Linked DNA regions of Homo sapiens: all the other regions are linked to region 1. Evidence: fine-mapped expression QTL. A gene starts in region 1. Each other region holds a variant in brackets. All regions are shown on one strand. Distances are from middle to middle. Region 1 holds the start of LINC02980 (long intergenic non-protein coding RNA 2980). Region 2 overlaps H1-1 (H1.1 linker histone, cluster member). Region 3 has its middle 11 kb from the start of H1-2. Region 4 holds the start of H3C1 (H3 clustered histone 1).

What was found. PIP is the estimated chance that this variant, and not a neighbour inherited with it, causes the effect.
Region 2: its variant is fine-mapped to the expression of LINC02980 in whole blood (TOPMed, PIP above 0.99).
Region 3: its variant is fine-mapped to the expression of LINC02980 in nucleus accumbens (GTEx, PIP 0.98).
Region 4: its variant is fine-mapped to the expression of LINC02980 in whole blood (INTERVAL, PIP above 0.99).

Annotation. Positions count from the first base shown.
Region 1 is chr6:25,991,220-25,993,906 of GRCh38, reverse strand. LINC02980 (long intergenic non-protein coding RNA 2980) reads right to left here and starts at 1,240. Exons shown (of 3, transcript NR_186645.1): 1 at 989-1,240. TRIM38 (tripartite motif containing 38) reads right to left here. Exons shown (of 8, transcript NM_006355.5): 8 at 2,676-2,687. RefSeq lists an enhancer at 922-1,131 and a silencer at 1,122-1,431.
Region 2 is chr6:26,014,844-26,017,530 of GRCh38, reverse strand. It overlaps H1-1 (H1.1 linker histone, cluster member), which reads left to right. Exons shown (of 1, transcript NM_005325.4): 1 at 1-499. The coding sequence ends at 446. It also overlaps the pseudogene H3P26. Among named protein-coding and RNA genes, the nearest start is that of H1-1, 1.6 kb to the left of the region's middle. RefSeq lists an enhancer at 552-1,551. The variant G/A (reference allele first, on the strand shown) is at 1,032.
Region 3 is chr6:26,066,097-26,068,783 of GRCh38, reverse strand. No RefSeq gene overlaps it. Among named protein-coding and RNA genes, the nearest start is that of H1-2, 11 kb to the right of the region's middle. RefSeq lists an enhancer at 1,672-2,171. The variant G/A (reference allele first, on the strand shown) is at 1,227.
Region 4 is chr6:26,018,364-26,021,050 of GRCh38, reverse strand. H3C1 (H3 clustered histone 1) reads right to left here and starts at 600. Exons shown (of 1, transcript NM_003529.3): 1 at 93-600. The coding sequence starts at 561. The coding sequence ends at 151. RefSeq lists enhancers at 1-271, 272-1,088. The variant AAG/G (reference allele first, on the strand shown) is at 1,071.

The DNA of each region.
Region 1 (2,687 bases):
AGTTGGTGGAGAAAGGATGGTCTATTCAATTACCTGGGCTGAGAAACTGGCTTTCATATGGAATAAAAATAAAATTATAGCTATACCCCATATCATACACAAAAGTTTCTACATCTAACAAAGACACAGATAGAAAATGTTTTAAAATTTTAGAAGAAAATAGTGCAGAATTTTAGTGCAGAATTTCTTAGACTAGATGCAAAAACAAAAATGATTAAAGTGGCCAGGCACGGTGGCTTATGCCTGTAATCTCAGCACTCTGGGAGGCCGAGGTAGGTGGATTAGTGGAGGTCATGATTTCGAGACCAGCCTGGACAACATAGTGAAACCCCATCTCTACTAAAATACAAAAATTGGTAGGGTGTGGTGGCTCACGCTTTTAATCCCAGCTACTTGGGAGTCTGAGGCAGGAGAATCACTTGAACCTGGGAGGCAGAGGTTGCAGTGAGGGGAGATGGCGCCACTGCACTCCAGCCTGAGCAACACAGCGAGACTCTGTCTCAAAAAAATCTAAAAATAAAAAGATTATTTTTAAAAGACTATTTTAAACAAAAAAAATCGTTTAAATGATATGACACACTACATCTAATATTTGGAAAAGTACTTCTTAATACTTTTAATAAAAAGAGGCGCTGAGAGCATACAACCTATCCTCAGAAGAGTGTTTGACCTCTAGGAGGGACGCAAGCGCGTTCTTCCTTCATTTTAACTGGTCATTTTCATTTATTTCAGGAACATCTGAAGTAAACACAGTCACACGTTAACCTTTAAAAATCTAGGAGGTGCGTACGCATAGTTCCATTACTTCAATTTTTGTACTTTTGCATTTTAAAATATCACAGGGAAGCTCGGTACAGCTTCAAGGCTAGGAGGGGTGGCTCTCTCTTAAGCCCTGTCCCCGCCAGCCCCAGACCTCTCGTCCCGCCCCCATTGCCCAGTCCCCACCCTCACTTCCCCATTTCCCCACTCCCGCGGTCTCTTAACGCACCTCGTTTTTCGTCCAGTGGACTCAGACCTGTAGTCTTCCACCAGGATCGGCTCCTTTCCCGGAGCTCTCGCTCTTAGAGGAAATTGAGAGAAGCATCAGCGGAGACCCATCTGTGGCTCTCCAGAGGGCGCGGCATTCAGACCCCAGATCCAGCTGTGAGAACGGACCCCAGGCTCACACCAGGCCTGCGGGAGGCGGCCCACCAGAGGCGCTAGAAAACAAGCCTCGCGGGGAGGCGCGCAGGGCGACTGCAAGCTGTAGGGGGCGCTGGCGCCCTCACAGGCCAGGGGCAGGGCCGGCGCTGCGGGCGGGGCTCCTGCGGCGTGAGGGGCGGCCCCAGGCCAGCAGCTGCGCCCTGGCTGGGAGCCGGGGAGCATTTGCTGCTCTGCTGGACCCTGAGTCTGGCGGCGGGCGGCCTCCTCTCCGCTCCCCGCCCGCCATCCCCCAACTCCCGATCTCTCTGCTGCGTCTGGCCTCAGGCTGAGACCCCAACGAATCATTCCCCGCATGGGAACATTTTATGATATAACTGAATTCAGTTTTATGTATAACTGAATTACGGATATGAGAATCTCAAATGAGGACGAATGGTTTTTACGCACAAAACATGAGACACAAATCTGTAAGAAATATAAAGTCGTGACCACGTCCTTTCAGAACTTTAACCTGTTTGCTGAAGTACGTCAGTAACAATGGCAGGGAAAGGGTATCTTAAATTTCACCACAGCCTCAAAGAGGCCATTTCGTGGATCCGCTGAGGCTTGGAGTCGGCCTTCTGACCACGAGTCCTGCGGCTATGAAAGAGGAAGCCGCGGTTCAGGGCGTCCTCGCGAGTCGTGCAGCCCGCCCTGCTCCAGCTGGGGACACCGGTGGTCACGGCGCTTTCCAGCTGCAGATCCAGGCGGCAGCCCAAGATTTGGTCCAGCCGCCAAGGGGTGGCTCGAGTGACTGACGGGCCTTGAACGCTCCCAGGACCCACATCTGGAGAGGGAGGTGGGGGTGGGGTGCTGAAGTCATTCTTGGGGCCCCTGGGGGCGGGCATGGACCTGGGTAAGGCCAGAGAAATTGACACCTCGTGACATCCCTGGAAGAGAAGTACGTTCAGTGTCACTCCAGAGCTGAAACCGCCTTCTGGCTGGTCCCTCCTCACCTACATACTTTTCTAATTTGTCTGGAGCAGGCCGGGCATCTGTATTATCTGGTTATTTAAATATCTGGTTATTTAAAAGCTCTCCATTAAATTCACATACACGAAAATAAAAATTAAAAAAAATTTTAAAAAAAAGAAACAAAAGCTCTCTAATGACCAAGTCCTACACGATAGTGAATAAATTTTTTTGTGTGGTCCCTAAAATTGAGTTCATGCCTTTTCTGAAGTAATAGACGCCCAGAGAAGGGATCGACTTACCCATCATGCCACAGAGATTAATTGGCCCCAGAATTCTTTAGCAGACCGTGTATATGAACGTCCTTTGCAATCATATAAATTAACTGGGAAAACCTCATTTAGTATGTTACATGCCTAGCGTTTTGTGCCTGAACACCTTACAAGAACCAGGGACTATTGCCCCAATATTATATTTCAGGAAAGGAAGGCCCAGACAAATGGTGTCACTGGTCCACTTTCACCCAGTTGGTAAATGAAACCAGAAATTATAGCTGTACCACAGAAAGGTGAAAACGTTTCTTTTATAATTTC
Region 2 (2,687 bases), 24 kb before region 1:
CGCTGGCGGCCGCAGGCTACGACGTGGAGAAGAACAACAGCCGCATTAAGCTGGGCATTAAGAGCCTGGTAAGCAAGGGAACGTTGGTGCAGACAAAGGGTACCGGAGCCTCGGGTTCCTTCAAGCTCAACAAGAAGGCGTCCTCCGTGGAAACCAAGCCCGGCGCCTCAAAGGTGGCTACAAAAACTAAGGCAACGGGTGCATCTAAAAAGCTCAAAAAGGCCACGGGGGCTAGCAAAAAGAGCGTCAAGACTCCGAAAAAGGCTAAAAAGCCTGCGGCAACAAGGAAATCCTCCAAGAATCCAAAAAAACCCAAAACTGTAAAGCCCAAGAAAGTAGCTAAAAGCCCTGCTAAAGCTAAGGCTGTAAAACCCAAGGCGGCCAAGGCTAGGGTGACGAAGCCAAAGACTGCCAAACCCAAGAAAGCGGCACCCAAGAAAAAGTAAATTCAGTTAGAAGTTTCTTCTAGTAACCCAACGGCTCTTTTAAGAGCCACCTACGCATTTCAGGAAAAGAGCTGTAGTACACAGATGAAATCCCCCAAGCAAATGCAACACGCCCTCAATTATATTAGAATCACTTGGAGAGTCGATAGAACTTTAACATAGCCTCATCTAGTAAGAATTTACTACTCAATCTATCAAAGATAGCAAGGTGAATTCAAATGCACCGAGTTAAAATCGAGTTTTAAAGTCACCTGGGTTTCGGTAGCCGGAAGTCCCGCGTCTCACGACTCCAAGCTAATTAGTCATAACCGTATTGAACCAAGGTTGAAGCCCAGTCCCAGGCTTGAGGCTTTTTATTATACAAGGTTAAAGTGGGGATATTGCGTTTTGGGGTCAATATTGCTAAAGTAGCATTTTCCGAAATTGGGTGGTCCTAAGAAATGCTTCTGGGATAGTTGGCAAAATATATGGCTTAACCACGCCCTCTCCACAGGAGTGGCTAGCGAGCTGTCTGTCCTTGGGAAGGACGGTGACCCTGCTGGCGTGGCTGGCGCCCACGTTGGCGTCCTCTGAAAGCCCCGCCAG[G/A]TAGGCCTAGCTCGCTTGCTTTCTGCAGCGCCATCATGACAAAGCTTTGAAACGCAAAATGCTTTCTTTGTGCAGCGCCTTACCATGGGTGCACTTACGGGCTGTCGACTTGGTTTAGGCCCTTGTCAGGACAAAGGAGCTTAGTTTGTTGGAGTTTTAGAGCTGCAACCCAAAATCCCTTGCTCGGTTTCTCTGTTTTTAGAAACGGAAGCGCCCTGATTGGATATTTGAAAATTACTGTGCTTAACTGGATCGTGTTTCATCAGTCGTGCAGGATTTTCAACCCTGGTGGAGCCCACACATTCAAAACTGAAGATCCTTTTCTCAGAACTGCCCCTTTAAGCTTTTGCAATTTTAATTCTGGGGGTCAGATTTTAATAATTGGACTTTTTTGTTTACATCTGACAAGAGTATATGATGAGCCAAGTTTACTCACTTTTACTTAGTGCAGTTCAATTCTAAAAGTTTATTTTTGCGTGTGTGCATATGAGTTAATAATCAGTTGTATTTTTCAAACGGTCTTTTTTCAATTGTTTTGCTTAGCTCCTTCCATCGTCTAAAGTCAGGGATACAGGCACATCACATCCCTGTTCCCCCTTCCTCAAACTAATATGTAGCTACCTAGGTTTATCCTTTAAAACAAAAATTCTCACCTATTTTTGTGAGAAATATACATGTTTTTCTTTGAACTAAGTATTTTACATACACCTATCTATATACATGCATACTTGTGGTTTTGTTTTTTTAAAAAAAAAAAAAAAAAAACACGTTATCTTTTGAGACTGGGTCTCAGTCTGTTGCCCAGACTGGACTGCAGTGGCATAATCACAGCACACTGTAACCTCCAACTCCTGGGCTCAGGCTATCCTGCAGCCTCAGCATCCGGAGTAGCTGGGATTGCATGCACGCACCACCAAGCCGGGCTTTTTGTTTTTATTTTTTGTGGAGACAGTCACACCATGTTGTCCAAGCTGGTCTAGAAATGGCCTCAAGTGATCATCGACCTCCCAAAGTGTTGGGATTACGGTCACTGTGCCTGGCCTTGTATGCATAATTGTTTTGTCTTTTGATTAGGGTTATTAATTTAAAAAACAAAGCCTGGACGCAGTGGCTCACATCTGTAATCCCAGCACTTTAGGAAGCCAGATGGGCAGATTACTTGAGCTCAGGAGTTCAAGACCAGCCTGGGCAACATGGTGAAATCCCATCTTGACAAAAAATACAAAAAATTAGCAAGGCCCAGTGGCACGCACTTATAGTCCCAGCTACTTGGGAGGCTGGGGTGGGAAGATGACTGGAACCTGGGAGGTAGAGGCTGCAGTGAGCAGAGATCGTGCCACTGCACTCAAGCCTAGGTGACAGAATGAGACCCAGTCTCAAAACAAAAATAATAAAAATTTTTTACAACGATGTTATATACACTTCTGCATGTTGCTTTTCTCTTAACCAAACTTTTCTAAAACCCTGTCATGAAAAAAGAAATCCTTCACATGGAATAGCATAAGTTATTCATCCATTTCTTATTGATAAGCATTGATGTTTCCAGTTACCACTGCTGAACATGGTGCAATTGAATAGAATTCCAGGGCTGAGATTGCTAGGTTTTAGGTTGTATTTTATTATTTTATTTATTTATTTATTTATTTAGACAGAGTC
Region 3 (2,687 bases), 75 kb before region 1:
TAGGAAATACGTATAAATTATTTAACATAAAATATTGTTACAAAACCTCTGGAGTGTCAGTTTCTCTGGCCAGACTTTATGCTGCAGCACCTTTGCCTGAGTTCTTGTCCTGCATCCAGGAAGAATTAGGTACAGAGGCAAGAGTCAAGAAGATTAGTTTTCCAATAGTTCAGCTCACCTAGTTAACTCCTGTTCACAATCTTCAAAGTTATCAGAAACCTGCAATTGAGGGTTATAATCCATTCTTTGCAGAGTTTCAAAACAAGACAACATTTGTCTATGAATGTTAAAATGTCCTAGGGTAGTCACAGTCAAAAACACAATTGACAAAGAAATTTAGTCACCTCTGTGATTTACAATAGCCTAACACAATAACTCTAATTATAACTGATGACACAAACTCAGATATCAGAACTCTAGAAATCCCCTATAATTTTGGAACACACATTCACAGTTTTCACTGAAATATGACCTGAAGATCAAATATCACCTTATTTCAACAATCCTATATAACTAAACGTGTCAAATGATCCTGTTTACCTCTCCTTTGGATACTCCAGGGGCCCTCTGTAGCATCCAAAAGTTAGGGGTTAGCAAAGACAATTTTGAAGCTGTAAAGGCTCAAAACACTTAATGAACCTCTAGTCATATCTGTTCTCTACTCACTAAATGCTAGTAGCACCTCTCAGTTGTGGCTAAGCTGGGAGGATCTCTTGAGCCTAGAAGTTTGGGGACGCAGTGAGCTATGATTATGCCACTGCACTCCAGCCTGGGCAACAATGCAAAATCCTGTCTCAAAAACAAAAACAAAAAACAAATTGCCTATGCTGTGGTTATCTCACAATTAATAAAAAGGAAAAAAAAAGTATGCAGTCTTTGTAGGTCCTTGGGGTTTGTTGGAACTCAGAAAACAATACCCCAAAATAAAGACCGCAGAAGCCAAAGTTTTTCTCTGATCTTCTCCTGCCCTCCTGTCTCTGAGTCCCATTCTCCCCGGAGTCTAGCCATAGAAATGAGAATTCCTCTTCCTCAAGTTAGGTCATAGAAATCAAAACACCTTTTCCCCAGAGCCCAGCCATAAAACCTAAAAATATTACTCTAACTTTCCCTCTGTTTTTCTGTGTAAAAACTGGCCATAAAGAAATTATCTGAACTACCTTATTTGATCATAGATCACCAGACCGCATTCCAGAGAGGATCCAGAAGGAAGGAATGCTGCACAGAGA[G/A]GCGAAGAAGAATCTAGACAGACAGGCCTTGCTGGGTTTCCCTACTCTGTTTATTAGCAATCCTATTTCTACACGGCGGCCCATACTTTGTTGAATCTAAAAAATAAAAATGGACAATTTCCCCTGTACATGTTAATACACATTAATAAATTGGATATAAATTGGATAATTTATTAATATACACATTAATAAATTGGATGCAGCCGGGTGCAATGGCTCACGCCTGTAATCCCAGCACTTTGGGAGCTGAGGCGGGCAGACCACGAGGTCAAGACCACCCTAGCCGAAATGGTGAAACCCCGTCTCTATTAAAAATACAAAAGTTAGCTGGGCGTGGTGGCACATGCCTGTAGTCCCAGCTACTGGGGAGGCTGAGGCAGGAGAATTGCTTGAACTCGGGAGGCGGAGGTTGCAGTGAGCCGAGATTGCGCCACTGCACTCCAGCCTGGTGACAGAGTGAGACTCCGTCTAAAAATAATAATAATAATAATAATAATAATAATAATAATAATAAATTGGATGCATTTTATCCTATTAATCTTCCTCTTGTCGGTGGTTTTCAGCGACTCTTCAGAGGCCAAAGAGTAAGTTTTCCCTTAGCCCCTACAGGTTCTTATGTTTAATTTGTTACTCTCATTTAAGACATAATTAAAGTGGCTTCTCCATGAAGATTATTTCTGCATCCATTATTTGGTAAGATTGGCCGTTTTCTCCTTTGATCTCTACTTCACACTGACCCACATAAAACATCACTGCCTGTTTTTTTGTTGTTGTTGTTTGGAGACGGAGTCTTGCTCTGTTGCCCAGGCTGGAGTGCAGTGGTGTGATCTCCGCTCACTGCAAGCTCCGCCTCCCGGATTCACGCCATTCTCCTGCCTCAGCCTCCTGAGCAGCTGGGACTACAGGCACCCACCACCAAGCCCGGCTAATTTTTGTATTTTTAGTAGATACGGGGTTTCACTTTGTTAACCAGGATGGTCTCGATCTCCTGACCTCGTGATCGGCCCGCCTCAGCCTCCCAAAGTGCTGGGATTACAGGAGTGAGCCACTGCGCCCGGCCCCGTTTTTTTTTTTGGTTTTTGCATGTCTTCTCCCTTTTACTGTAAACTATTTCCACTACCAGCGTAGTTATCATTTCTACTGCTTAATAATTGTTTTGGGGAAGTGAATGCATCAACCCACATGAATTTCTTGTCTATTTGACAATTTATTCTCTTTAGGAATAGTATTAACTCCTAAGGTCCTGGGAGCCAGTCTCTGTACTTGGCTGCTCCAGGGTCCTACTTCAGTTTCCCAGCTTCTCAGTACTGTCACTGTCAATTGTGGGTAATAATTATTTTTGTCCACCAAAAGACTCTGTATGTGAATGAGTTTTGAAATCTGCTGAGTAATACAGTGTCAACCCAGTTAATGATTTGCCGGGCGGCTTGATCAGGGGCTGTCCAACTACCGGCATTTTGA
Region 4 (2,687 bases), 27 kb before region 1:
TTGGTTTTGAAGCCTTCAGTAGCATTAAAACGAAAAGTGCTCCCAATGCATTCCCTTTTGTCTTAAATTGGTTTCTTACAGCTACTTTACTTGAAAAGGTGGTGGCTCTGAAAAGAGCCTTTGCTTGGACCGTCAGAGAGACCACAGTAATCACGCCCTCTCTCCGCGGATGCGGCGGGCGAGCTGGATGTCCTTGGGCATGATAGTGACGCGCTTGGCGTGGATGGCGCACAGGTTAGTGTCCTCAAATAGCCCTACCAAGTAGGCCTCGCACGCCTCCTGCAGAGCCATCACAGCGGAGCTCTGGAAACGCAGGTCTGTTTTAAAGTCCTGCGCAATCTCGCGCACCAGGCGCTGGAAAGGTAGTTTACGAATAAGCAGTTCAGTGGACTTCTGATAACGGCGGATCTCGCGCAGAGCCACGGTGCCCGGCCGGTAGCGGTGGGGCTTTTTCACGCCGCCGGTGGCCGGAGCGCTTTTGCGGGCTGCCTTAGTGGCCAACTGTTTGCGTGGCGCCTTGCCACCAGTAGACTTCCGAGCAGTTTGCTTAGTGCGAGCCATGACGGAAAAACAGCACAGCGGAACACCCAACACTAGCGCAAATACGCCCATGAGCTGCTCTATTTATAGTGTGTAAAGTGCAGTGATTGGATGATAGAAGACGCTAAATATGACGTTACACACTCTGATTGGTCTATCTTTAAGCCAGCAACAATCGTGCAGTTTCACCGGCTACTATATTCTATTCCAACTCTACAGATGATTATTTAAGTGGTATTTTATTACTACTATTATTTTATTTTACTTTTGCTTTGTTCCCCAAGCTGGTCTTAAACTTGGGCTCAAAGGATCTTCCCGCCTCAGCATCCAGAGTAGCTGGGATTACAGGGGAGCCCCACTGCGCCGGCTTGGACTTTAATTTTTTAAACTTGTCCTCTTCTACATCTGGTTTTCATAACCTGAAGGCTGTGTTTATTTTCCATAAAACAAGGCATTGATTCCAAAGGTATTATAATTCCCCAATTCCGTATAACCTTCAGCTCTTTAGGAAAAAAAAAAAAAAAAAAAAA[AAG/G]AGGGAATACTGCTCACCTCCTCTCCGGAAATGTACCCTTTACGGGAATTTCTGAAACCTTTCACAAGAATTGGATTCCTTTGTAATGCTTTAATTGACTTAGGAGTGTTATTGAAATCTACAAAGCATCTCAAACATAGTAGGATTACACTATTACTCAGAAACATTTTCTATGAGACGTCTTTCTCTTGATTATGCTCTTTGAATCCTAAACTTGCAGCGTTCTGCAGCTTTTGTTTTCTAAAGCCTAGGTGTACTCTGCCAGTCACAAAATGGCGTTTCTCCAGCACTGCCGCCAGGTACCACCAGCTGGGAGTTGTTCCTCTTGCGGAGCAGGAGGTGGACTTGGCCCAAGAGAAACTGGATAGTGGTTCGCAAGGAACATAATTTAGCATTGCCAAGAGCTAATGCAATCATTTTGAAAATCTCAAAACACTGAAAAGTGGATTGTGACCTTTTTAAATTCACAAGAGACAGGCCACATTCTATCTTTTGATTGGTTTAGGCTATTTTCTTGAACAGCCATTTAGAAAGCAGATCTATCATCCTTCATTTGCATGGAGCGTTCCCATTTTATTTGAAACCAGTTTAACCCAATAGAAAAAAGGGAGGCAGAACCCATTATTTAAAGTGGAAACTCCTGAATCAGATAATTAGGAGTATTTCCTTTTCAAAAGTTGCGTTTTTTCAGATACCTCGCTTATTACACTAAGAAAGGTTTATATCTTTCACAAAGGGTTTACTTACAAAAATCTTCCAATTTTGTATACCTGTGTTTCATAACTGACTAGCCGTCAAACCAAGATGTAGAGTTTCCAACCGTTATTTTCCAAATTTTTAGAAATTACGTGAAATATTTGAATGCATGCCTTCTCAATAAAATGGGACGTAGGAAGCACTGGTGCAGAAGATGGGTACAATACTTATCTGGGACCACTCCATTATTTGGTTGGCACGTTGTTTGAACAAAAAGGGGAAAAGCTCAGGTTACTTAGCATGGTTCGGACTTATTTGAAAACTACCACAGCAGGAGCGGAAATAAGACCGCATTACCTCACTCTCTGCTGTGCTGTGCTAGGGGGTTATCCAGAATAGGATTGTAGAAGTGGATGTCGATTTAATAGTTTTTTATTCTCCCATTAGCTGAGTCTCTGATTGGCAATGTGAGATCGTTTTAGCTTATTGATACTTTGAAATGCACTTAACAGCCACAAACAAGTTAAAGGGTTGTTACCATAAAATCTTATCCCCAGGGTGTGCTTGCATTTATCACCCGTGTTTGCTTTCACACTAAGTGGACTTAACTCCCCAGCAGAATGCCTGTCAGGGAACCGGTTTCGTGGACCCAGCATTTAACGCCTTTCGCAGGCTTGTGAGGCCCATAAATATTTGTTGAATAAAAGAATGAGTTGACCATGTCATGGTGCGCTGATTGCGTGTGCTGACATGGAACACAGGTTGTAAACCTTAATACCAATTTGGGGCATGTTGTATGGATGAAAAGGGCATTGGAAATTCCTGAAGTGCATCCCACATTGGACTGTGGAAATAAGTTGCAAGTGCAGAAACGTTTCCACACTTGCAGTTTGAGTATTAATTGCAGCGTTTGTGAATT